Regions from separate parts of the Homo sapiens genome. Here all the other regions are linked to region 1. The links come from fine-mapping of genetic effects on gene expression. A gene starts in region 1. Each other region holds a variant in brackets. All regions are shown on one strand. Distances are between the middles of the regions. Region 1 holds the start of YWHAE (tyrosine 3-monooxygenase/tryptophan 5-monooxygenase activation protein epsilon). Region 2 overlaps YWHAE (tyrosine 3-monooxygenase/tryptophan 5-monooxygenase activation protein epsilon). Region 3 overlaps YWHAE (tyrosine 3-monooxygenase/tryptophan 5-monooxygenase activation protein epsilon).

Region 1 (10,444 bases):
TGCATTTAAGAAGGAGAAAAATAAACTTTACTCCAGAAAGTTAGTCCATTAACTGAAACGGCAATGGAAAATTACTGGCCTACAGTCAAAGAACTGGTAGTTAATCTAAATACTTCTAAACTTATTAACAACGTTAATTTACTACTACCTATTTTTTTCCTAACAAGACCGTAGTAAAAAGTTCATTCCACACATGCTCCCTTCCCTGTTCTTCACTAACTAGCAGAATAAGCTAGCTAGAGATGAGGATCTGGTGTTTTAAAAGGACAGCTCTCAGCGGGCTCAGTGGCTCACGCCTGTAACCCCAGCACTCTGGGAGGCCGAGGCGGGCGGATCACCTGAGGTCAGGAGTTCGAGATCAGCCTGGCCAACATGGCGAAACCCCATCTCTACTAAAAATACAAAATTAGCCTGGCATAGTGGCGGATGCCTGTAATCCCAGCTACTCTTGGAGGCTGAGGCAGGAGAATCGCTTGAACCCAGGGGATGGAGGTTGCAGTGAGCCGAGATCGCGCTATTGCACTACAGCCTGGGCGACAAGAGCAAGACTCCGTCTCAAAAAAAAGACAGCTCTTGACCAGGCGCGGTGGCTCAGGTCCTTAATGTCAGCACTTTGGGAGACTGAGGTGGGCGGATCACCTGAGGTCGGGAGTTCGAGACCAGCCTGACCAACATGGAGAAACCGTGTCTCTACTAAAAAAGAAATACAAAATTAGCATGGCATGGTGGCACATGCCTGTAGTCCCAGCTACTCGGGAGGGTGAGGCAGGAGAATCGCTTGAACCCTGGAGGCGGAGGTTGCAGTGGGCCGAGATTGTGCCACTTCAATAAAGCCTGGGAGACAGAGCGAGACTCCGTCTCAAAAGAAAAAAAAGACAGCTCTCAAGTAAATGACTCAACAGATGCATTCCTAGGGAATCCAACATGACCATCAAAACTTCATCCTACCTTCCATGAAGCCAATCTTGATAGGGAAGAGACTAGGAAAGGACAAAACCAACAACAGCCCCACAAGCCCAAATGTAGTTTATGTTACCCCTCTGCTCCCCAAAAACGGGTAAACTTTTCCCCTCTATATTCCCCGTTTTTTATTGTTGCTGTTGCCCAGGATGGAGTGCAATGGCGCAATCTCGGCTCACCGCAACCTCGGCCTCCCGGGTTCAAGTGATTCTCCTGCCTCCGCCTCCCAAGTAGCTGGGATTACAGGCACCCACCACCCCCGGCTAATTTTGTATTTTTACTACAGACGGGGTTTCTCCATGTTGGTCAGGCTGGTCTCGAACTTCTGACTTCAGGTGATCCACCCGCCTTGGCCTCCCAAAGTACTGGGATTACAGGCATGAGCCACCGCACCTGGCCTCTTTTTTTTTTTTTTGGAGACAAGAGTCTCGCTCTGTTGCCCAGGCTGTAGTGTAATGCCATAATCCTGGTTCACTACAACCTTCACCTCCCGGGTTCAAGTGATTCTTCCACCTCAACCTCCTCAGTAGCTATGCCCGGATAATTTTTTTATTTTTGTAGAGACAGGGTTTCACCATGTTGGCCAGGCTGGTCTTGAACTCCCGACCTCAGGTGATCCACCCGCCTCGACCTCCCAAGGTGCTGGGATTACAGGCGTGAGCCACCCCGCCCGGCCTTTCTTCCCCACTTTCTTGTACTATTTCATATACGGGACAGTAAGAGCTGTTTGAGAAATGCTAAGAAATAATGGACTTGCTTAATATGGTTTCAAAGGAGGTAAAAACGATTCGAATAGACTACTGGCTTGTTAAAGTGATGAGATGCTAGATTTAATCTTCAACTCCCAGCCCCAAACTTAAATATTTCCTGTGACCCAAAATTGTCATTTTCCTGAACACAGGTTAGCTCTTCCTCCCGTACTGTTAAATAATCCATATAAATTGATTCCAACGCCCCAGGATAGAATTAAATGAGGATACAAAGAAGTTTAGGCACTAATTCAACACAGCAAGCAAAATAAAATAAGCCTGCTGCAGTAACAGAGAGATAAAAGGGCAGCTGGAAACCCAGCATTTGGGTACAAGTACCCAACAAAGAAATCCTGCCAATACACTGTCTTACCTTCTTCCACCCCCGACACCTGCTAAGTTCTGTTTGGTGACCAGAACTCCGGGAAAACTTTGCCACCAGAAACAAAAAAATACCGCACTCAATAAAGGAATGGACACAGGTAGAGGACACAGGTAGAAATTCCTGGTTTCTGTCTCCTCCTCCTCCTCTCCTTTCCACTGAGTCCCTACCTTATGCCCCAAGTCACAGCAATAGCTCCTCACCTTGTAGATCCTATTTCCTTACCCCTTTAGATCCTGAAGGGGACACCTAACATTAACAACTGTAATAATGTGGCTGTATCAGAGTCCCATGTTCAATAACCAATAAGGGCTCTGGTCAGAAATCCTCACCACTCACATCAAAAATATAATTATCACTAACCTGTACTTTATTTGGAAACTACAATCACAAGCTTTCAAATCAGTTTTTTAAAGGAGCTTTCAAAAAGAAAAAGACCTTTCCTCACATCCTTTCTAGTTATCACAGCAAGTTTACTTAAAAAGCCCCAATACCCACAAAATAGAAAGCATTCAAGTACAATTTGTTTCCTCCCAAGAACACTAACAGATTAAGAGGGGAACATCTGGAGATGAGGGGGCGGAGGAGGAGACTTCCAATACAAGCACATTCATATCTCTTTGATTTTTAAACACTGAAATAAAGACAAAGCAGACCTTGAGCTGTACTTCCCCATCTTATCCCCCCCCCCAACAGGAACCTTGTTGAATACAAATAGCAATTTAAGAATTTACAAGACGAAATTTAGTTCACTATATTTCCTAAATATGAGTTCTAGAGGCCTTGTCTTATTTTCAAATCCCTGAATCTTATTTCTGATGATAAGGGGGACTAACCCTGAGGTTATTCACATGACTAAATCCGCATTTCGAGGAAAGCAAGGGCCCTAACATTTTGAAATATAGGTATTTTAATTAGGAAAAAAATCTAAGAATCAAAGATACTTGATTCCAACCATGTCTCACCCCACCCTACCACGCAAAAGCATTAAAACCACAGGACCCACAGACATGACCTTTCGTTTAATACTACAGTATCGCACAATTATAAATGTGTGGGTATTTCAAAAGGTGGTCCAAAAGGTGGACTGGGAGAGAGGATTAAGAATAAACTTCCTGACAATGACTGGACAGACACAATGGACATTCGATGAAGTTCTGAAAAAGGACTGGAGAACCCATTAGGGGCAAAAGAACAACGAACAAAGAGGACCTACTAATATTTCTACATAAACCCATTTATTTAAAACGGAAAAAAAGAAAGCAACAGGATCTTCAACCTTCATAACTCAAAAAACCCAGCCTCAGCCGAGCGCCTGGAATAGGTTAAGATCCCCCACGAAGTACAGACCAGCATTCCGAGCCTGCAGAGTCAACCAAAATACAGTTACTGAACACTATTGGAAATAACTTTATTTCAACAGGTCTTCCCATTTGTCATCACGGTGCGCACAAACTGTAAAGTCATCGTTTTTACAAACGGGGGGACGGAGGCTCGGGCTCTACAAAGGCTCGAACTCTCAGAGTCGTGGCCTCCTGGTTCTATCCATCAGAACCCACGGGTGATGGAGCCAGAGAAAGGTTACAGGAACTTCGAGATCTCCTGTTTTAAGTCTGAGGAAAGGGAGGGAGTGAGGATTTTCTGGGCCTCCCCAGAAGACGACGAGGAGGAAAAGCCCCGAAACCCCTCACTACGAGGTGCCGGCCTACGGGAAAGAAACCCGATCGCAGCATGGGAGCCTGCCACCGCCCGAAGACGAACTGCAGTGATTCCCACTCACCCCTCTCCCCCCACCATCATCCACGACTGTCCCCCACCTCAGGCCTGAGGAAGCCCATCGCTCTCAAAGGTCCTCCTTTGTGAGACTCCACGGCCGCCGCCCCACACGGGGCCTCCGGGGAAAAGCCACCGCCCCCACCCGCCATATTTCCCTGAAAGGCGCCCGCGCTACAGCTCCCGGTCTTCGCTCTCTCCCATGTGGCGGGTGCTGCTTCCCCCGTCACCCCACCCAATTGTTCTCCACATCCCAAGGCCGTCCCAGAAGCTCCCATGAGGGTGGCTCGTTCGGAGACAGCACCCGCCATCTCCTCCCCCTCCCCCGCCCCGGGACTCGCCCTCCCCCCAGCCGCCATTTTACAACCAACTCCTCCACCCCGTCGCCCCGGCCTCCCGGCCCGCGAGTTGTTTGCAGTTAAGGACGGCGAAGGGGTCACATTCCAGGGCATAGAGCCTCCCATCGCCCCGGGAGCTCCCAGGCCATTTCCTGCTTCCCGAACCCAAGCCCCCGGGCCAGGCTCGCAGACGATGCCGCCATTTTGTCTCCTGTTCCCGGCCTCTGTGGGCGGCGGCAGAGGGTCCGAGAATTCCAGCCCCCCGTTGCCCCCCCAACTCACCGTCGTATCGCTCAGCCTGCTCGGCCAGCTTCGCCTGGTACACCAGATCCTCTCGATCATCCATAGCGGCAGCGGCTCCGGCAGGGTCTGCGCGACGGATGGAAGCGGATAGTGTCTCCGACTCTCTCAGCCTCTCGCTCCGCGTCCGGGCAGCAAAAATGGCGGCGCCTCAATCCGGGACTTCCGCCTGCGCACGCGGACAACTGCTCAGCTCTATGGCAACCGCTCCCTGGCAACTGGCGCGGGGGGCGGGTCCTGGAACTCGGCGCCCGAAGCGGCTGGAACGAGCGCACGAGACGCCTCTCCTCTGTCGGCTCAGCGGGCGCCGGAGCCCAGAGGCGGGAACTGCGACTGCCGAAAGGGAGCGGCCCCCGGGGAACGAGAAGGGCTGAGGCGGGGCCGGCCGGGACTGCTCCTGAAAAAAGCCAGCGAGAGACCTGGGTCAGACCGGGGCCCGAGGCCCGACCTGCGGAAAAGAACGACGGAGGCTGTAACGGTTTCTGTCATGGCAGGTCTTCTTTCCCGAAATCTGAGGCTGTCACTACCGCGCCCTGGTTTTCTTTTCTTTTTTCTTTTTTCTTTTTTCTTTTTGAGACGGAGTTTCCCTCTTGTTCCCCAGGCTGGAGTGCAGTGGTGCGATCTCGGGTTACCACAACGTCCGCCTTCCCGGGTTCAAGTGATTCTGCTGCCTCAGCCTCTCGAGTAGCTGGGATTTCAGGCCCCCGCCACCACCCCCAGCTTTTGTATTTTTAATAGAGATGGGGTTTCACCATGTTGGCCAGGCTGGTCTCGAACTCCCGACCTCAGATGATCCGCCCCCCCTCGGCCTCCCAAAGCGCTGGGATTCCAGGGGTGAGCCACCGCGCCCAGCCCACGTCCTAGTTTTCTCGGCCAAGCCTGGTCATGGGCCTTTTTCAGACACTTTTAGACTCAGGGTAACGAACCGGGCCCTGGCCGGGCGCGGCGGCTCATGCCTGTCATCCCAGCACTTTGGGAGGCCAAGGCGGGAGGATCACAAGGTCAGGAGTTCGAGACCAGCCTGGCCAATATAGTGAAACCCCGTCTCTACTAAAAATACAAAAAATTAGCTTGGCATGGTGGTGCATGCCTGTCATCCCAGCTACTCAGGAGGCTGAGGCAGGAGAATCTCTTGAACCCGGGAGGCGGAGGTTACAGTGAGCCGAGATCCTCCCATTGCACTCCAGCCCAGGCGACAGTGTGAGACTGTGTTTCAAAAGAAAAATTATATATATATACAAAAATTAGCTGGGCGTGGTGGTGCATGCCTGTAATCCCAGCTACTCCAGAGGCTGAGGCAGGAGAATCGCTTGAACCCGGGAGTGGGAGGGTGCAGTGAACCGAGAGCACACCATTGCACTCCAGCCTGGGCAACAAGAGCACAACTCTGTCTCAAAACAAAGAAAAAGAAAAAAAACGAACTGGGCCCTGTTACAGTTGTCAGGGACAGGGGAGCTCCAGTTTTCACGCCTCAACTTTCCCCTCACACTGATCTTTGTCTTCTCCTGTTTAACCTTTTTCCCTCCCTAGGCCCACTATGAATAGGAGCAGGGAATTTGTTAGATGAGGGTGGTGTGGAGTACATGGTACAGAAGAGTTGGACCAAGATCAAATAAAGATTGTGGAGGCAGGAATAACTCAGTGAACATTGCTTCAGCTTCTGGCGCTTGGGAGGCCCATGCGGAAGGATGACTTGAGCCCAGCCTGGGCAACATAGCGAGACTCCATGTCTATAAAAACGTTTTTTTTTTTTTTTATTTGAGTCGGCATCTCGCTCTGTTGCCCAGGCTGGAGTGCAGTGTCGTGATCTCGGCTCACTGCAACCTCCACCTCCCGGGTTGAAGCAATTCTCCTGCTTCAGCCTCCCAAGTAGCTGAGACTACGGGCACATGCCACCACACCCGGCCAATTTTTTGTATTTTTAATAGAGACGGGGTTTCACCATGTTAGCCAGGGTGGCCTCGATCTCCTGACCTCGTGATCTGCCCACCTCGGCCTCCCAAAGTGCTGGGATGACAGGCCTGAGCCATATCTTAGCAGTTTCAGAGGCTGAAGCAGGAGGATCTCCTGAGTCCAGGAGGTTGAGGCTGCAGTGAACTGTGATTGCACCAGTGGACTCCAGCCTGGGTAACAGAGCGAGACCCTGTCTCAAAAAATAAAGTGGGGAGAGGGAGGGATCTTGCCACGTTGCACAGACTGGCCTTAAACTGAGTTCAAGCAATCCCACCTTGGCCTCCCAAGTAGTTGGGAAACTACAGGCTTGCACCAACGCACCCAATCTTGCATCCTATTTTGTGGCCAAGGGAGCTGTATGATTTTGCGTGGAGGATGATGTCATCATAGTTATATTTCAGAAATATTAACAAATATTCCATAGCAATGATTAAAGAGGAGGATAACCAAACGTAATACGTGGGAGCAATGAAAATAGAAAGGAAAGGATAAATAGGAATAGCACTATAGAGGGAAGCCACAAGCAGCTGATCAGATTGCAGCTCTTTTTTTTTTTTTTACCATTACATATATAACATTTTATTATAATTTAAGGTATAGTCGATAATATAATGTTTTTTTTGTGTTTTTTTTGTTTTTTTTTTTAAATTGATCATTCTTGGGTGTTTCTCGCAGAGGGGGATTTGGCAGGGTCATAGGACAATAGTGGAGGGAAGGTCAGCAGATAAACATGTGAACAAGGGTCTCTGGTTTTCCTAGGCAGAGGACCCTGAGGCCTTCCGCAGTGTTTGTGTCCCTGGGTACTTGAGATTAGGGAGTGGTGATGACTCTTAACGAGCATGCTGCCTTCAAGCATCTGTTTAACAAAGCACATCTTGCACCGCCCTTAATCCATTTAACCCTGAGTGGACACAGCACATGTTTCAGAGAGCACAGGGTTGGGGGTAAGGTCACAGATCAACAGGATCCCAAGGCAGAAGAAGTTTTCTTAGTACAGAACAAAATGAGAAGTCTCCCATGTCTACCTCTTTCTACACAGACACGGCAAGCATCCAACCTCTCAATCTTTTCCCCACCTTTCCCCCCTTTCTATTCCACAAAACCGCCATTGTCATCATGGCCCGTTCTCAATGAGCTGCTGGGCACACCTCCCAGACGGGGTGGCGGCCGGGCAGAGGGGCTCCTCACTTCCCAGTAGGGGCGGCCGGGCAGATGCGCCCCTCACCTCCCGGACGGGGCGGCTGGCCGGGCGGGGGGCTGACCCCCCCACCTCCCTCCCGGACGGGGTGGCTGCCGGGCGGAGACGCTCCTCACTTCCCAGATGGGGTGGCTGCCGGGCGGAGGGGCTCCTCACTTCTCTGACGGGGCGGCTGCCGGGTGGAGGGGCTCCTCACTTCTCAGACGGGGCGGCCGGGCAGAGACGCTCCTCACCTCCCAGACGATGGGCGGCCGGGCAGAGACGCTCCTCACTTCCTAGATGGGATGGCGGCCGGGCAGAGACGCTCCTCATTTTCCAGACTGGGCAGCCAGGCAGAGGGGCTCCTCACATCCCAGACGATGGGCGGCCAGGCAGAGACGCTCCTCACTTCCCAGACAGGGTGGCAGCCGGGCAGAGGCTGCAATCTCGGCACTTTGAGGGGCCAAGGCAGGCGGCTGGGAGGTGGAGGTTGTAGCGAGCCGAGATCACGCCACTGCACTCCAGCCTGGGCACCACTGAGCACTGAGTGAACCAGACTCCGTCTGCAATCCCGGCACCTCGGGAGGCCGAGGCTGGCAGATCACTCGCGGTTAGGAGCTGGAGACCAGCCCGGCCAACACAGCGAAACCCCGTCTCCACCAAAAAAATACGAAAACCAGTCAGGCATGGCAGCGCGCGCCTGCAATCGCAGGCACTCGGCAGGCTGAGGCAGGAGAATCAGGCAGGGAGGTTGCAGTGAGCCGAGATGGCAGCAGTACAGTCCAGCTTCGGCTCGGCATCAGAGGGAGACCGTGGAAAGAGAGGGAGAGGGAGACTGTGGGGAGAGGGAGAGGGAGAGGGAGAGGGCTTTTTTTTTTTTTTTAATTTTGAGACAGTCTCGCTCTGTCGCCCAGGCTGGAGTGCAATGTCACAATCTCGGCTCACCACAACTTCTGTCTCCCAGGTTCGAGCGATTCTCCTGTCTCAGCCCCCCAAGTAGCTGGGATTACAGGTGTGCCCCACCATGCCCAGCTAATTTTTGTATTTTTAGTAGAGACAGGGTTTCACCGTATTAGCCAGGCTGGTCTTGAACTCCGACCTCAGGTGATCCTCCCACCTCAGCCTCCCAAAGTGCTGGGATTACCAGCGTGAGCCACCGCACCTGGCCCAGATTGAAGATCTTATAATAAAAATTGACTTTCCATCTTTCCACCCTGAGAATATTAACAAAAAATGGGAATGCTAGGAACACTTGCTGATGGAATGCAGAGAAAGACAAAGTTCTTTTAGCACATGTTGGTTCAGAGGATCAGGGATCCGCAGGTACCCAAGGATCACCCAGGTAAAAATGACCACGAAGGAGTTGTAAAAGGGGACACGCATTCCAAATAGAAGGGAAGCTGTTGGCCGGGCACAGTGGCTCACGCCTGTAATCCCAGCACTTTGGGAGGCCAAGGCGGGCAGATAATGAGGTCAGGAGTTTGAGACCAGCCTGACCAAAATGGTGAAACCCTGTGTCTACCAAAAATACAAAAAGTAGCTGGGCATGGTGGCACGCGGCTGTAATCCCAGCTACTGAGGAGGCTGAGGCCGGAGAATCACTTGAACCTGGGAGGCGGAAGTTGTGGTGAGCTGAGATTGCGCCACTGCACCTCAGCCTGGGTGACAGAGTGAGACTCCATATCAAAAAAAAAAAAAAGAATAAAAGGAGGTGTCAGTCGTATTAAATTCTGCAGAGACATAAGTCAGATTAGCACTGAGGGAAAGCCATTGGATATAGCGATTAGGTCATTAGTGACCTTCAAAAGGAGTTTCGAAATGGTGTTGGAAGCCAGATTGCATTTGGTTGAAGCTCAGGGAAGTCGAGAAAGTGGAACTGGTAAGCATAGGGGTCTCCTGAGAGGAGCAGTGAAGACAGACAGGTAATTTGAGAGCAATGAGTGGCCAATAGGGGTGGCCAAATTAAGGATTTGGTCCACACATTCACAAACCTACCTACAAAGACAGCTCTGCTGCCGGGTTGATTACAGGGGCTGCCGTGGCTATGCAGCTGTCTGTGCTGGGGAAAGAAGCTATCGGCCGTCTCTTTCACAAAGAAGCTTCTGTACAGTGTCTCCCCAGACCCGCCGAAGTCTCTCCAAAAGTGCCTCTTCCTACGTAACTGCTGAGACGGCAGAAACCCTACACGTAGATTGCTGGTGTGACTGCACTGCCCGTTCTCTCAATACATGGAACTAACGGGCAGACATGGTTGATAGGGCACCAAAAATAGACAGAAACAATTTTGATGTAGCATTCGGGATTATAAACAGATATAAAACATCCTGGTGCTGCGCAGAAGTGGCTGTCGTGATACGGTCCTGCGCTTTTCACGGCTGCTGCGGCCATAGATACTTCACTTGCTATTGAAACGCCTTTGACACAATCTCCAGGTCATAGGTCACAACCCCAAGTGTAAGTCTCCCTGCCTGATAGAAAATCTGCTTTAATAAGAAACAAGAACTCACTCAGTCCGTCCGGAGAGCCCCTAGATATGTGGCAGTGTACTAAGCACTATGAGAAGGAAATAAGATGTTAAAAAATATCATTAACCAGGCTCGGTGGCTCACTTCTGTAATCCCAGCACTTTGGGAATCTGAGGCGGGTGGATCACCTGATGTCAGGAGTTTGAGACCAGCCTGGCCAACATGGTGAAACCCCTTCTCTACTAAAAATACAAAGGCCGGGCACGGTGGCTCATGCCTCTTATCCCAGCACTTCGGGAGGCCAAGGCGGGCGGATCATGAGGTCAGGAGTTCGTGACCAGTCTGGC
Region 2 (10,444 bases), 43 kb before region 1:
CAGGTCCGTTTCCCCAAAAGAAACTACAGATAGCCTCAAGCAACGCGACATATGTTTTATGTTTCAGCCTAAGAAACGTTATCTCTTTTTTTTTTTTTTAGATGGAGTCTTCCTCTGTAGCCCAGGTTGGAGTGCAATGGCGTATCTCTCAGCTCACTGCAACCTCCGCCTCCTGGGTTTAAGCAATTCTCCGGCCTCAGCCTCCTGAGTAGCTGGGACTACAGGAGCCCGCCACCACGCCCAGCCAATTTTTTGTATACTTAGTAGGGACGGGGTTTCCCCGTGTTAGCCAGGATGGTCTCGATCTCCTGACCGCGTGATCCACCCGCCATGGCGTCCCAAAGTGCTGGGATTATAGGCATGAGCCACCGCGCCCGGCACAGCCTTAGAAACATTCTTAAAGGAACCGCAGCTAAAACTGACATCAGACTTTGTTTACAACCTCCTACCAGCACCACCACCACCAAATGTAAAACTATCCTGTAATACTCCTATCACACTAATTTGTCCTCTTCTCCATCCCTGTTCAACAATCTACCATGGATCAAAATGATTCTCTAGACAGAGAATAAAATTTCCTTTAAAATCAACAAACATAACAAATTTGGGCTCCTGTATTTAAAGTAAACATTAACACACACTCAACATCACAATTAAGTTTACTAAAATACTCTGAAGCGTTTGCAATGAAAACCTCTTAAGAATAAAAACAGGCCGGGCACGGTGGCTTGCGCCTGTAATCCCAGCACTTTGGGAGGCCGAGGCGGGTGGATCACAAGGTTAGGAGATCGAGGCCAACCTGGCTAACACAGTGAAACTCCATCTTTACTAAAAATACAAAAAACTAGCCAGGCGTGGTGGCAGGCACCTGTAGTCCCAGCTACTCGGGAGACTGAGGTGGGAGAATGGTGTAAACCCAGGAGACGGAGCTTGCAGTGAGCCAAGATCGCGCCACTGCACTCCAGCCCGGTCAACAGAGCGAGACTCCATCTCAAAAAAAAAAAAAGAAAAGAAAAGAAAAGAAAAGAATAAAAACAGCAGGGCGCAGTGGCTAACGCCTGTAATCCCTGCACTTTGGGAGGCTGAGGCGGGCAGAACACCTGAGGTCAGGAGTTCAAGACCAGCCTGACCAACATGGAGAAATCCCGTCTCTACTAAAAATACAAAAACTAGGTAGTCGTGATAACGGGTGCCTGCAACCCCAGCTACCCTGGGAAGCTGAGGCAGGAGAATCGCTTGAACCCGGGAGGCAGAGTTTGCAGTAAGCCGAGATTGAGCCACCGCACTCCAGCCTGGGTGTCGCAGCAAGACTCCGTCTCAAAAAAAAAAAAAAGAGACCCAAGGGCCAACATTCAATTTCTCTACAGAATCCCAGAGGGAAATGGGAAACCAGTTCCCTTTTAGATAAAATATTTCAACAAAGAGAAAAACTTCATAAATACCTACTGATACCATCTGGATTTAAATACACTTAACTTCAGCCCCCTAAAATTGAATTGAATGAAGATAAAATAAACTGCTTGCTCTCCACTCCTCCTGTCCTCAACCTTTGAAACAGTGTAAAGGAAGAGCTAAACTAAGTTCCCAAAATGGAACTCCGTACTGTAGCACCATTTCCTATAAAGGCAGCAATTACAATTTCATAGAGGGCAGGCGGTGAATCTAAATTCTAGCTTGATATAACGACAAGCCAAGGAATGTCTAAAGAGAGTACAAACAAATCCTGCAACTGAAAGAGGTGCCTGTTTCACTCCGTGCTTGCTTACCGTCACCCTGCATGTCTGAAGTCCATAGTGTCAGATTATCACGTAACAACTGCATGATAAGTGTAGAGTCCTTATAGCTTTCTTCACTCAGCGTATCCAGTTCTGCAATTGCATCATCAAAAGCTGCTTTTGCCAACCTAAAGGTATTTCAATAGAAGTGTTATAAAAATTAAGTCCAAAATCAGAATTAGAAATGACATGCTAGACAGCAATCTTTTCTTCAGTTATTCCAGTTTGTAATAGTCACAATGATAATGCAAAGAAAAAGCAAATACAATAAAAATTAACTTAAAGGTATGTGGAACACTACTTCTTACTATGCTTTAAGCCTGCTACTGATATGCTATAATATACATATCGACTAATAAAATACATAGAACAACTTCCATCCTAAACCATCACCAAAAAATATACCTCCAAGTTCTAGGCAATAGTTCACTTATTTCAAAAAGTTTTGTTTGTTTGTTTTTAAGACGGAGTCTGGCTCTGTCGCCCAGGCTGGAGTGCAGTGGCGTGATCTCGGCTCACTGCAAGCTTCGCCTCTCAGGTTCATGCCATTCTCCTGCCTCAGCCTCCCGAATGGCTGGGACTACAGGCGCCCGCCACCACACCCGGCTAATTTTTTGTATTTTTAGTAGAGATGGGGTTTCACCGTGTTAGCCAGGATGGTCTCGATCTCCTGACCTCGTGATCCACCAGCCTCAGCATCCCAAAGTGCTGGGATTACAGGCGTGAGCCACCGCGCCCAGCCTAGTTTTTTTTTTTTTTTTTTTTTTTTTTTTTTTTTAAGGGATTCGTTATGTTGCCCAGGCTGGACTTGAACTCCTGCGTTCAAGCAATCTTCCGAACCTTAGCCTCTTGAGTGGCTGGGACAAACGGTACACACTACCACCCCCAAGATTTTTTAAAAAAAAAAAAAAAAAAAAAAAAAAAAAAAATTTTTTTTTTTTTTTTTTTTTTTTGGGGGACGGGGTCTCGCTCTATCACCCAGGCTGGAGTGCAGTGGCGGGATGTAGGCTAAATGCAAGCTCCGCCTCCTGGGTTCACACCATTATCCTGCCTCAGCCTCCCGAGTAGCCGGGACTACAGGCGCCCGCCACCACACCCGGCTGATTTGTTTTTATATTTTTAGCAGAGGCAGGGTTTCACCGTGTTAGCCAGGATGGTCTTGATCTTCTGACCTCGTGATGTGCCCGCCTCAGCCTCCCAAAGTGCTGGATTACAAGGTTGAGATATTTAACAAAGTATTAATGCAAAAAGAAAATCTTGGACAATACCTCAAAGTTTAAAAAAATTTAATTTCACGTTAATGGAGGCAGGGAAGCAAAGAAAATAAAAGGCAACACAGACGCCATGGAAATGTGATTATGTAAGCCATTTACAGTTTTAAAAGAAAATCCACACTTACTGAGTACTGTGTACTATGTCCAACAAACGATACGATATACCAATAGAAAAAAAAGAGACATAATCTAAGTCCACATCAACTTAAAAATTTAGAAATGGAGGGTAGACAAATACATAACTATTTTACAAGGAGGAGGCTGGCTGTGGTGGCTCATGCCTGTAATCAGCACACTTTGGGTGGCTGATGCGTGCGCGCAGATCACTTGAGGCCAGGAGTTCAAGACCAGCCGGGCCACCATGGCAAAACCTATTAAAAACACAAAAAATTAGGCCGGGTGCAGTGGCTCAAGCCTGTAATCCCAGCACTTTGGGAGGCAGAAGCGGGCGGATCACGTGGTTAGGAGATCGAGACCATCCTGGCTAACACAGTGAAACCCCGTCTCTACTAAAAATACAAAAAAATTAGCCGGGAGCAGTGGCAGGTGCCTGTAGTCCCAGCTACTTGGGAGGATGAGGCAGGAGAATGGTGTGAACCCAGGAGGCGGAGCCTGCAGTGAGCCGAGATCACGCCACTGCAGTCCAGCCTGGGCAACAGAGCAAGACTCCGTCTAAAAACACACACACACACACACACACACACACACACACACACACACACAAAATTAGCCGGGCATGGTGGCGTATGCCTGTAATCCCAGCTACTCAGGAGGCTGAGGCAGAAGAATCCCTTGAACCTGGGAGGCGGAGGTTGCAGTGAGGTGAAACTGTGCCAATGCACTCCAGCCTGGGCAAGAGAGCACAAAAACAAAAGAAGAAGAAGAATGAAGTGCTATTCCAAATAAAGTATTTCAGGGACCCAGAAGGAGGAGCAATTAAAGGGAAAGTCAAATTTGAACTAATCTCAATGGATAAGGAGAAAACAAAACACACTTCAGGTTTAAGCAGAAGCATGAGCAAAGGCATGCGAGTGACTTTAAACTGGAGCTACACGTGGGACAGCTAGACTGGAGTCTGACAAGGAAAGGTGCAACCACCAGTATTAGCTAAATAGCCACAGCTTCTTCAGTTACGATCCCTATCTGGACAAACTCAACTAGCCATTTAGAATGTTTTTACATTGGCTGGGCGCAGTGGCTCACGCCTGTAATCCCAGCACTCTGGGAGGCTGAGGCAGGTGGATCACCTGAGGTCAGGAGTTCGAGACCAGCCTGACCAAGATGGTGAAAACCTGTCTCTACTAAAAATGCAAAAAAAAAAAAAAATTCAGTCAAGCGCAGTGAAGCATGCCTATAATAGTCAACATTAAAGTTCCAATGTATCAGTTAATCCCCTTTCCTCAAACTTTGAAAGGCTTTCACTTAAAAACCCTACTTTGCTTAAGCAGTTGTCCTCAAACAAACCAAAAAAAAACACATACAAAAACCAAAAGGGGCCGGGCGCGGTGGCTCACGCCTGTAATCCCAGCACTTTGGGAGGCCGAGGAGGGCAGATCACGAGGTCAGGAGATCGAGACCATCCTGGCTAACACAGGGAAACCCCATCTCTATTAAAAATACAAAAAATAGGCCGGGCGCGGTGGCTCACACCTGTAATCCCAGCACTTTGGGAGGCCGAGGCGGGTGGATCACGAGGTCAGGAGATCGAGACCATCCTGGCTAACACGGTGAAACCCCATCTCTACTAAAAATACCAAAAATTAGCCGGGCGTGGTGGCGGGCGCCTGTAGTCCCAGCTACTCGGGAGGCTGAGGCAGGAGAATGGCGTGAACCCGGGAGGCAGAGCTTGCAGTGAGCCGAGATCGCGCTACTGCACTCCAGCCTGGGGGACATAGCGAGACTCCGTCTCAAAAAAAAAAAAAAAAAAATACAAAAAATTAACCGGGCGTGGTGGCGGGTGCCTGTAGTACCAGCTACTTGGGAGGCTGAGGCGAGAGAATCGCCTGAACCCAGGAGGCTGAGCTTTCAGTGAGCTGAGATCACGCCACTGTACTCCAGCCACAGCAGCAGAGTGAGACTCCGTCAAAATAAAAAAAAAAAGCAAAAAAACCATTTTGCTACTGCAATATTTACTGTAAAAATTTAAAATAGGCTGGGTGCAGTGGCTCACGCCTGTAATCTCGGCACTTTGGGAGGCCGAGGTGGCTGGATCACTTAAGGTGAGGTGTCCAAGACCAGCCTGGCCAACACTGTGAAAACCCATCTCTACATAAAAATACAAAAATTAGCTGGGTATGGTGGCGGGCGTCTGTAATCCCAGCTACCTGGGAGGCTGAAGCAGGAGAATCGCTTGAAACCGGGAGGCAGAGGTTGCAGTGAGCTGAGATTGCACCACTGCACTCCAGCCTGGGAAACACAGCGAGACTCTCCTCTCGGGGGAAAAAAAAAAAGAAAAAGACAATAGCAAAAAACAACAACAACAACAAAATGCCAACCTACAGAAGAGGAGAAAATACTCACAAACCATTTACTTGCTAAGAGGTTACTATCTGGAATAATGAACTCTCAACACTTAACAAACGAAAAAAACATGAATTCAAAAATGGGCAAAAGGGCCTGGTGCAGTGGCTCAGGCCTGTATTCTCAGCATTTTGGGAGGCTAAGGCAAGAGGATTACTTGAGGCCAGGATTTCAAGACCAGCTTCGGCAACACAGCCAGACCCTGCCTCTACAAAACAAAACAACAAAAAAAAATTTTTTTTTTGAGACGGAGTCTCGCTCTGTCGCCCAGG[C/G]TGGAGTGCAGTGGCGTGATCTTGGCTCACTGCAAGTTCCGCCTCCCAGGTTCACGCCATTCTCCTGCCTCAGCCTCCCGAGTAGCTGGGACTACAGGCGCCCGCCACCACGCCCGGCTGATTTTTTGTATTTTTAGTAGAGACGGGGTTTCACCACGTTAGCCACGATGGTCTCGATCTCCTGACCTCGTGATCTGCCCTCCTCGGCCTCCCAAAGTGCTGGGATTACAGGCGTGAGCCACTGCACGCAGCCCAAAAAAAATTTAAAAATTGGCCGGGCGCAGTGGCTCATGCCTGTAATCCCAGCACTTTGGGAGGGAGGCTGAGGTCAGGAGTTTGAGACCAGCCTAACCAAGATAGTGAAACCTCGTCTCTACTAAAAATGCCCCCAAAAATTAGCCAAGCATGGTGGCACATGCCTGTAATCCCAGCTACTTGAGAGGCTGAAGCACCAGAATCGCTTGAATCTGGGAGGTGGAGGTTGCAGTGAGCTGCGATCGCACCACTGTACTCCAGCCTGGCCAGCAGAGCGAGACTCCATCTTAAAAAAAAAAAAAAAAAAGGGCTGGCCAAGCACAGTGGCTCACACCTGTAATCCCAGAACTTTGGGAGGCCGAGGCGGGCAGATCACACGAGGTCAGGAGTTCGAGACTAGCCTGGCCAACACTGTGAAACCCCATCCCTACTAAAAATACAAAAAATTAGCCAGGCATGGTGGCAGGCGCCTATAATCCCAGCTACTTTGGATGCTGAGGCAGGAGAATCGCTTGAACCTGGAAGGCAGAGGTTGCAGTGGGCCAAGATCACGCCACTGCACTCCAGCCTGGGTGACAGTGCCAGGCTCTCCCTCAAAAAAAAGAAAAAAGAAAAAAAAAAGGAAAAGAAAAGGCCAGGTATGGTGGCATCCACCTCTAGTGACAGCTACTTGGAAGGCTCAGGTAGGCGAATCGGCTGAGCCCAGGAAGCCAAGGCTGCAGTGAGCTATGAGTGCACAACTGCAGAGACAGAACAAGATCCTGTCCGGAAAAAAAAGTTACCCACAGAATTTTCAGTCCCAATTCCACCTCAAGGTGAAGTTAAATACAAGGACTCAAGCAAATACTTAGTGCACCCATTTTCATAGCAGCATTGTACTCACCATAGGGAAAAGGTGGAAACCCACTGACCACCAAAAGTTTAATGACTAAACAATGTGTGCAAAATACATAAAATGAATTGTGTAAATTCAGTCACTAAAAGGACTGAAGCTCTGATCCATGCTTTTACATGGATAAAAACATTACGCTAGATGAAATAAAGACAGCCACAAAAGGACAAATATTATATGATCCCACTTACATGAGGTATCTAGAATGGGCCAAATTCATAGTGACAACGTAAAATAAAAGTTACTAGCAGCTAGGGAGAGGGGAAATGAAGTTATTGATTGTTTAATGGCTATAATTCGCTTTGTGTGGGGTGAAGAGAAAGTTTTCAAATAGTGGTGATTACACAACACTGTCAATGTATTCGGTGCCACTAAATTGTTGTGTGTGTGTGTGTGTGTGTGTGTGTGTGTGTGTGTGTGTGTAAAAGTCTCGCTTTGTCGCCCAGGCGAGAGGGAGAGGGAGACGGGGAGAGAGAGGGAGACGGGGAGGGGGAGGGGGGGAGGAGGGGGAGGGGGGGAGAGAGGGGGAGAGAGAGAGAGAGAGATTTGAAAAAAAGTCTCACTGTGTCACCCAGGCTACAGTGTACTGGTGCAATCGAGGCTCACCGCAACCTCTGCCTCCTGGGTTCAAACAATTCTCCTGTCTCAGCCTCCCGAGTAACTGGGATTGCAGGCATGCACCACCACACCCGGCTAATTTTGTATTTTTAATAGAGACAGAGTTTCACCATGTTGGTCAGGTTGGTATCGAACTCCTGATCTCAGGTGACCCACCCACCTCAGCCTCCCAAAGTGCTGGGATTACAGGCGTGAGCCACTGCACCCAGGCTATCACAACTTTTTAAAAGTAAAAAGTTATGTACGTATAAATATTCCTTACATATTTATCTACATTATCAAAAACTGGGAACAAGCTGAAGTATAAATGGGGGAACAGTTTAACACACATTAGTAAGACTGAAACTTGTTTATGCTAAAACAGAAAATATAAAATTATGTTTGCTACGAGAGTAACTATTAAAAACATGCCCATAGAAACAGAACACTGGCTGGGTGTGGTGACTCATGCTTGTAATCTCAGCACTTTGGGAGGCGAAGGCGGGCGGATCACTTGAGGTCAGGAGTTCCAGACCAGCCTAGCCAAAATGGTGAAAACACCGTCTCTACTAAAAATACAAAAAAAATTAGTTGGGCATGGTGGCAGGCCCCTGTAACTCCAGTTACTCAGGAGGCTGAGACAGGAGAATCACTTGAACCCAGGAGGTGAAGGCTGCAGTGATCTGAGATGGCGCCACTGCACTCTAGCCTGGGAGACAGAGTGAGACATGGTCTCAAATTTAAAAAAAGACTGAAAACTAATATAACAAAAATTAAAATAATTCTAATTCCTCTCATTTCCTTCCTCTACTCATTTTAACATGTTAGATTTCAATCTACCAGCAACAAAAATATCCCACATCAAAATAATTATGCTGACTGCTATGCTAGTGGGTTGAGACAGGTCTGTTTTAATACTATCCAAAGTAGTTTCAGTAAGAGCCAAAAGAATTACTATGCAGCCAAGTCTACAAAGACAGGCCCAAGAAACAACACGGAAAACCCAAACAGCGCCCCCCTTAACTTTCACGCTGAGCGCTGCTGTTCTTCCCCACAACTTACCTGCAGGCACGGTCAGGGGAATTAAGAATTTCGTAGTAGAATACGGAAAAATTGAGAGCAAGACCTAAGCGAATAGGATGCGTTGGTGGAAGTTCTGTCATTGCAATATCACTAGCAGCTTTATAAGCCACTAGGCTGTTCTCCGCAGCCTCCTTCCTGTCGTTTCCTGTGGCAAATTCTGCCAGATACCTGTGGTAGTCCCCTTTCCTAAAACAAAACCAAAATTAAAAAAAAAAAAAAAATTTAAACTAGGAACGATTTTTAAAGGAAAATAAGCTAAAATTGTTCTATATTATATAAAATGTGACAAAAATATATGTAACAATTAGGTGTACTTCAATAATTTTAAACACTCTCAGGAATAACTGGCTTCGTTTCATTTTTTTCCTTAGACATTTCATATTACTAAATATAAGCAAAAATCCCAGGAAATTAACTGAGGAGCCTCTAAAAATTAATAAAATTATCACCTGATAGACCAGAATTAAACAAGCAAGTGGTTCCAAGGAATGGCATGACAGTTTATTAATCATAAAATAAAATGTCTATATATAACACTAAGCACTGTGAAATGTATGCCGTTTGGGGGAGGGGAATGGGATAGGTCTCACAAAAACAAAAGAATATAAATAAGCAAAAGCTAATACATTTTCATAATAGCCCAACCACCTTTTCATTACAATATTAACTATCCTTCTAACATTGAACAATTATTCTTAAATAAAAGTTGAAAACCTACATAGAACAAAGTTATGGTTCTAAAAGGACCAACTTTCAATCTTACATTTTCCCTTCTAGTATAGAACCTACATTTTATAATAGAAAACCTTGGACTCGCCAGTGTTAGCTGCTGGAATGAGGTGTTTGTCCAGTACATCCAGAATGTCACAACAGATTAACTTTAGCTCAGTCTCAACCTAAAAAAAAAAAAATTTTTTTTAAATCAGATTAAGTCTAGAAATTCTACAAATTATTACATATTCTATCTCTGGTTTTGAGGTAGAGAGCTTAGTATTAAAAAGAATTTGTATCCCTCTCCAAACTCCCTTCTTCCTTCTTGACACAAAAGCAGAGAAAAGCTGCCTCTAGGTTATAAAAAGTATCTTTTCCCTTCTGCATGCTGCCTATTGTTACACACACACATGCAGGCACGCACACACGCCAGCCCCCACACCCCCTTCACAGTACCACAGTACAGCTACAGAATTACCAATGACTAAAACTGAACACTGATGCTTCTTGGTAAATGCTGGTCAATTACATGAATTACCTTCTTTCACAAGGTAGCAACGTAAAGACATTGCTCTAAGATCAACAATTAAATAAGAATTTAATAAGCAGAGCTAGGATTTGAACCCAGGCAGGCTGCAAGGGACAGAATCAAAATTTAAACCCAGGCAGTTTGCCTTCAGCACTCACATCCTTAACAACATTCACCAGGCAATTCCTTTAGTGGCAGAGATCCGTAACTATTAAAACACCGAAAACCTATCTACCAAAGTAGCTACTGCCACCCATCTCTATCCACTGATCATGCTGAACACGCACACCACCTCTCAACGCACATCCTCAGCTTGCTTCCTGTTTGCTATTAACTCATGCAGCACTACTGCTGAACCTTTCATGAGGGTCCTCTCCGTGCCCCTGGAACCTCCGTTTCACTGCAGAAAATTCTCTCTTTTTCTTCTATAATCACATCCTTATCCCAAGCAAAACTACTTTCTGAATAAACGACATCCCTGACAGCTTTTCCAATAGAGACTGGTCTAGGAGAAGGAAGACTTCTAAGTTCTCCTA
Region 3 (5,000 bases), 57 kb before region 1:
GGCGGATCACGAGGTCAGGAGATCGAGACCATCCTGGCTAACACGGTGAAACCCGGTCTCTACTAAAAATACAAAAAATTAGCCGGGCCTGGTGGCGGGCGCCTGTAGTCTCAGCTACTCTGGAGGCTGAGGCAGGACAATGGTGTGAACCCGGGAGGCGGAGCTTGCAGTGAGCCGAGGTTGCACCACTGCACTCCAGCCTGGGTGACAGAGAGAGACTCTGTCTCCAAAAAAAAAAAAAAAAAAAAAAGTTTAAATACTTTAAATGATCACTTTAGAATATATTAATAAGGGGGAATATAGTATTTCAAGAAAATAGTTTTAATGAAGAGCAAAAGGTAGTATGGCCTAATGAGACTCTTCAGTGACACAGATGAACTGAATTCTGTATTTGAATTATTAGCCATGCAGCTTTCAGCAAGTTCCTTAACTACTTCCCATTCAGCTTTTCCCATCTGCACAATGCAGGCTCACCTGATTATTATTGAGCGCTTACGTGTGAGATTCCAGACATTGCTTAGTAACGAGCACAGTGCCTGGTGCAAAGCTGGTACGCAATGTTAGCAAAACTATTATTATTTTTTTTTTGAGACAAGAATCTCGCTCTGTCGCTCAGGCTGGAGTGCAGTGCTGCGATCTCGGCTCACTGCAAGCTCCGCCTCCCGGGTTCACGCCATTCTCCGGCCTCAGCCTCCCGAGTAGCTGGGACTACAGGCGCCCGCCACCACACCCGGCTAATTTTTTGTATTTTTTAGTAGAGACGGGATTTCACCGTGTCAGCCAGGATGGTCTCGATCTCCTGACCTCGTGATCCGCCCACGTCGGCCTCCCAAAGTGCTGGGATTACAGGCGTGAGCCACCGCGCCCGGCCAATGTTAGCTAAATATTAACAGTATCTATTACAATCCTACGAACTCAAAGAAACAGGATAAAACAACACAGGGCTTGGTTTTCCTGATCCAGGTTGGATCTGGGAGCATTCCCATTTCCTCTCACAGTGCTCACAAAGGCTTCCTTTAATGACACACTCTAGGATTTCACCAGTTTTCCATGAACTATTACTTGTTACAATTTTCAAAAGAACACAGGGGTCACACCTTTATCCCGCTTTTTCAGCAAGCCTCACTCTCCTCTATTGTCCTAGGATCAGGAAGCAGCTAATTTGGGGTCTCATTTATAAGGCTCAAGGCATTTGTCTGGGACAGAAGCCAATTAATGTCTCCATTTATCCCACCAGTTTCCCCTTTCAGTGATGGAAGTTCATCCCCATCTTCCTATAGGACCGAAATTTAACTTTGCAGACGTGCTGTTCTGAGGACCCACCCGGAACAGAGCATGTACACAAACCCACTTACTGTCGCTTCTAACATTGTAGGAAGCCTTTGGGTTTTCCAAGGCAGCAAAGTACTGAGATTTGTAATTAAAAACACATATTAGCTACATTCAAGTTGTAACTAACTAAAAACTTCTACTTAAGTCGACTGATCCTCAAAGTAAGACTCAAATCAAAACCAGAAAAGTTTGGGGGCAATTCCCTTTCCAGCCCACAAATACAGGAACTGGGAGTGACACCGTCCTCACAGGGCTACGGCACCTTTCTGCAGCTTCCCTGGCTCCCTTTCAATTTTTTTTTTTTTTTTTTTTTTTTGAGACGGAGTTCTGCTCTTATTGCCCAGATTAGAGTGCAGTGGCGCGATCTTGGCTCACTGCAAGCTCCGCCTTCCAGTTTCCAGCGATTGTCCTGCCTCAGGCCTCCCAAGTCACTGGATGTTAATTACACCCAGCAAGGTCGCCCGCCACCACGCCTGGCTAATTTTTTTGTATTTTTAGTAGAGACAGGGTTTCCCCATGTTGTCCAGGCTGGTCTCTTAACTGCTGACCTCGTGATCCACCCACCACGGCCTCCGAAAGTGCTGGGATTACAGGC[G/A]TGAGCCACCGCACCCGGCCTTTCAATTTTTGATAAGGATCTTTCCTTTTTTTTTTTTTTGAGACAGTCTCACTCTGTCGCCCAGGCTGGAGTGCAGTAGCGTGATCTCGGCTCACTGCAACCTCTGCCTCCCGGGTTCAAGCGATTCTCCTGCCTCAGCCTCCCGAGTAGCTGGGAGTACAGGCGTGCGCCACCATGCCTGGCTAATTTTTTGTACTTTTAGTAGAGACGGAGTTTCACCGTGTTAGCCAGGATGGTCTCAATCTCCTGACCTCGTGATCCGCCCGCCTCGGCCTCTCAAATTGCAGGGATTACAGGTGTGAGCCACCGCACCCAGCCGAGTGGTTTCTTTAAACTCTGCAACAGACTTGACGAATTCCTTGGATTTTGACCTTTAAGTGTAGCAGGTGTGCTGGAAACAGAGCAAATCAACTTGAAAGCTTCTTGGAGGTTGCTCCAAACAGCAGCATATAATTATATTCAATGGTCTCCCTATCTCTCGGAAAAGCAACTCACAAAAACATGTTTATTCTCATTGCCAGCACTCACTAAACGCTACTAGGATATCGCTGATCTGTTCATTTCCTAAATCTCTGCTACTAACACTTTAAACCGAGAGTAAACTTGCAGTCTCAACATCCAATTTTAGAAGACAAGTGTGACGAGGAAGGATTTATCAACTGAAAAATGTTTACTGACACAGGGAATCTAGAAATGTACCTTCCAGATACATACAAATATTTAAGCAAAAACTGTTCCAAGGGTATTTCCTGCAGCACCTGCCCAAAAGGAGCAAACTGGTCTTAACAAAATCAGGTGTACATCAATGTTACGCAGTCAGAATGAGACACATCTGAATGCCTAACATAAAAAGATCTACAGTAACTAGGTATCTATACACATTGATGTATAAACTGTTTATGGAAAGAAGCTTCTTATACAGTGTTTCTGGAAAGGGAGACTGCTATCCTGCTGTCTATAATGTGTGTATGGATTACTAAGAAAGGATTGAGTAATTCTCCACTACTGCCACTAGCCTCTGGAGGAAGAGGGCACACAGTTTTTACCTCTAAGAATTATTATAAGACATTCAGCCTTATTTGGTTGTATGAAATACTATGCTAGAAAATGATCCATAATTACACCTTGTACTACTCATGTTGTACTTTAATGATTAAAATAAATACCATGTTGCTGCCTGGTCTGGAGGACAAGACACACCATCAACTGACTCAGTGTTCTTCACAACCAGACTACAGGCAATTTTTTTCCAAAACATACATCTTTGGGAAGCAAACAAATTATTTATGGAAGAAAAAAGGAGGAATGTTTCACATTCAGGCAAACATAATACTGTCAGTGTGTTTGGACTAGAGATTTTATTTTAGAAGTATAAAGGATGGAGGCGCGATATTTGGCATTTTTAATTTAGGTTTGTTTTATTTAAGTTTAATGTTAATTCCATGCTGTGTTTCAGTAAGAACAATACAGATTCTGTATCTGTGGCTCCAGTCAGATATCCAGTAGTACAAATTAGCTTCAAGTTACACATACTGAACAAAAGAGGTTGAGCGAGCGAAGGAGGGGAGGAGTGAGGGGAAGGAGGTAGGGGGAGGGGGAAGGAGAAGAAACAAAAGAATTGAACAGGCATGCAGGCTTTTCCATACCACCTTCAACGCTAACCTGCTTCAGTGGGAGAGTAAAGTAGGCAAGAATGAGCAGCCACGGATTGTTGAACTGTTACCAGCACCATGCTTTTCAGCAACATTTCAGCGGAGTTGGAAACATTTTTTACAGCAAAACCATTACAACGAAGTCCCTCCCCAAACCACCTTTAACCATCTCAAGCTAACACCCAATTACTTGCAAACACTGGTATAAAACACAGTTTAAACAATTAGAAAAATGAAAACTGATACCACTTATGCCTCTATAGTGTGATTAACCTCTCTCTTAGATGCTTGCATCACCTATAAGTCTAATGGCTTTCAAATGTAATTTCCATTTGCTAATGGTGATCTTGCCACATCTGGCACGGAGACGACACAGTAATGCTGAAAAAGCCTCTATGTAGTCCTGTTAGTGTCTTAAAGAACCTAAAAGCTGGGACCAGTAAAATCCACAGAAATTCACTCTTGCCTTTAAGAACTTTTGAAAACTGTTTAAAAAAAAAAAAAAAAAACCAACAGGGCAGGAACCTAAATTCTGAGACCAAATGTAAAAGTCAGATTTGGTGGTTCTCAGTGACAATGGGGAGTTTCCAAAGGGTGGGATGGGGAGGAGGGGGTGGTCAGAGATGGTTTCTCTTGTTGGCTTATGTCTCACTGATTTTCGTCTTCCACGTCCTGCAGCGCTTCTTTATTCTGCTCTTCACCTGTTAAAAAAGAAAAAAAGTCAATTATTTCGTATTGACTACATTAGGCTATGGCAGCCACAAACAAAGGTGTCATTCCAAGCATAAAGACTCTTCTACTTGCTACAATTGGTATTAAACGCAGGCAAAGGACTTCTATCATCCTTGACACCTGAGATGCCTAAGCCAAGAAGGGATTATGGTCCTGAAAGTATTTATTGGTCAACAGAATGAAAAAAACTGATGCGCAGTACAACTCAATGTTTTTACGCTAAATAAGCTCTTGACGTAGACAGCCAAGGAAACCATCTTACTAAAATGACATTCAAGCTTTCACATAAATCTTGGGTCAAAATACTCTTTCTCAATAACCTCACCTCTTCAAGAATCAAGAGTATTTTGCAAACTTTTTGCAAAATCTAATTTACCCACAAGCTAATTATCAGAAATGCTTCAAAATAGTTAACTGAGCAATAAACTGTTGCCAAGAAGTTCTATCGTATTTTATTGTGGGGTTCTGCTGTTATAAATATTTCAGCTTTTGTATCTTGGCCAGATACACCAAACTATAATCAGATTTTACTTCAGAGTGAAACACAGCATGCTCAAAGTAAATCAGACCACTGAGGTTATTAAAGAATGGCATTTGGACCACTTCACTCATGCTATTTGTCTTTTGCCTTTAAAGAGGGTGATTACCCTAAGGAGTTTCAACTGCAC

The links. PIP is the estimated chance that this variant, and not a neighbour inherited with it, causes the effect.
Region 2: its variant is the best candidate, but not a certain one, in a credible set for the expression of YWHAE in whole blood (TOPMed, PIP 0.90).
Region 3: its variant is the best candidate, but not a certain one, in a credible set for the expression of YWHAE in fibroblasts (GTEx, PIP 0.86).

What each region holds. Positions count from the first base shown.
Region 1 is chr17:1,395,563-1,406,006 of GRCh38, forward strand. It overlaps YWHAE (tyrosine 3-monooxygenase/tryptophan 5-monooxygenase activation protein epsilon), which reads right to left and starts at 4,660. Exons shown (of 6, transcript NM_006761.5): 1 at 4,485-4,660. The coding sequence starts at 4,548. RefSeq lists enhancers at 3,245-3,882, 3,883-4,520, 4,521-5,158, 6,101-6,716, 6,717-7,332.
Region 2 is chr17:1,352,445-1,362,888 of GRCh38, forward strand. It overlaps YWHAE (tyrosine 3-monooxygenase/tryptophan 5-monooxygenase activation protein epsilon), which reads right to left. Exons shown (of 6, transcript NM_006761.5): 3 at 9,458-9,564; 4 at 8,648-8,854; 5 at 1,767-1,903. Among named protein-coding and RNA genes, the nearest start is that of YWHAE, 43 kb to the right of the region's middle. The variant C/G (reference allele first, on the strand shown) is at 5,842.
Region 3 is chr17:1,341,199-1,346,198 of GRCh38, forward strand. YWHAE (tyrosine 3-monooxygenase/tryptophan 5-monooxygenase activation protein epsilon) reads right to left here. Exons shown (of 6, transcript NM_006761.5): 6 at 3,077-4,301. The coding sequence ends at 4,249. Among named protein-coding and RNA genes, the nearest start is that of YWHAE, 57 kb to the right of the region's middle. The variant G/A (reference allele first, on the strand shown) is at 1,928.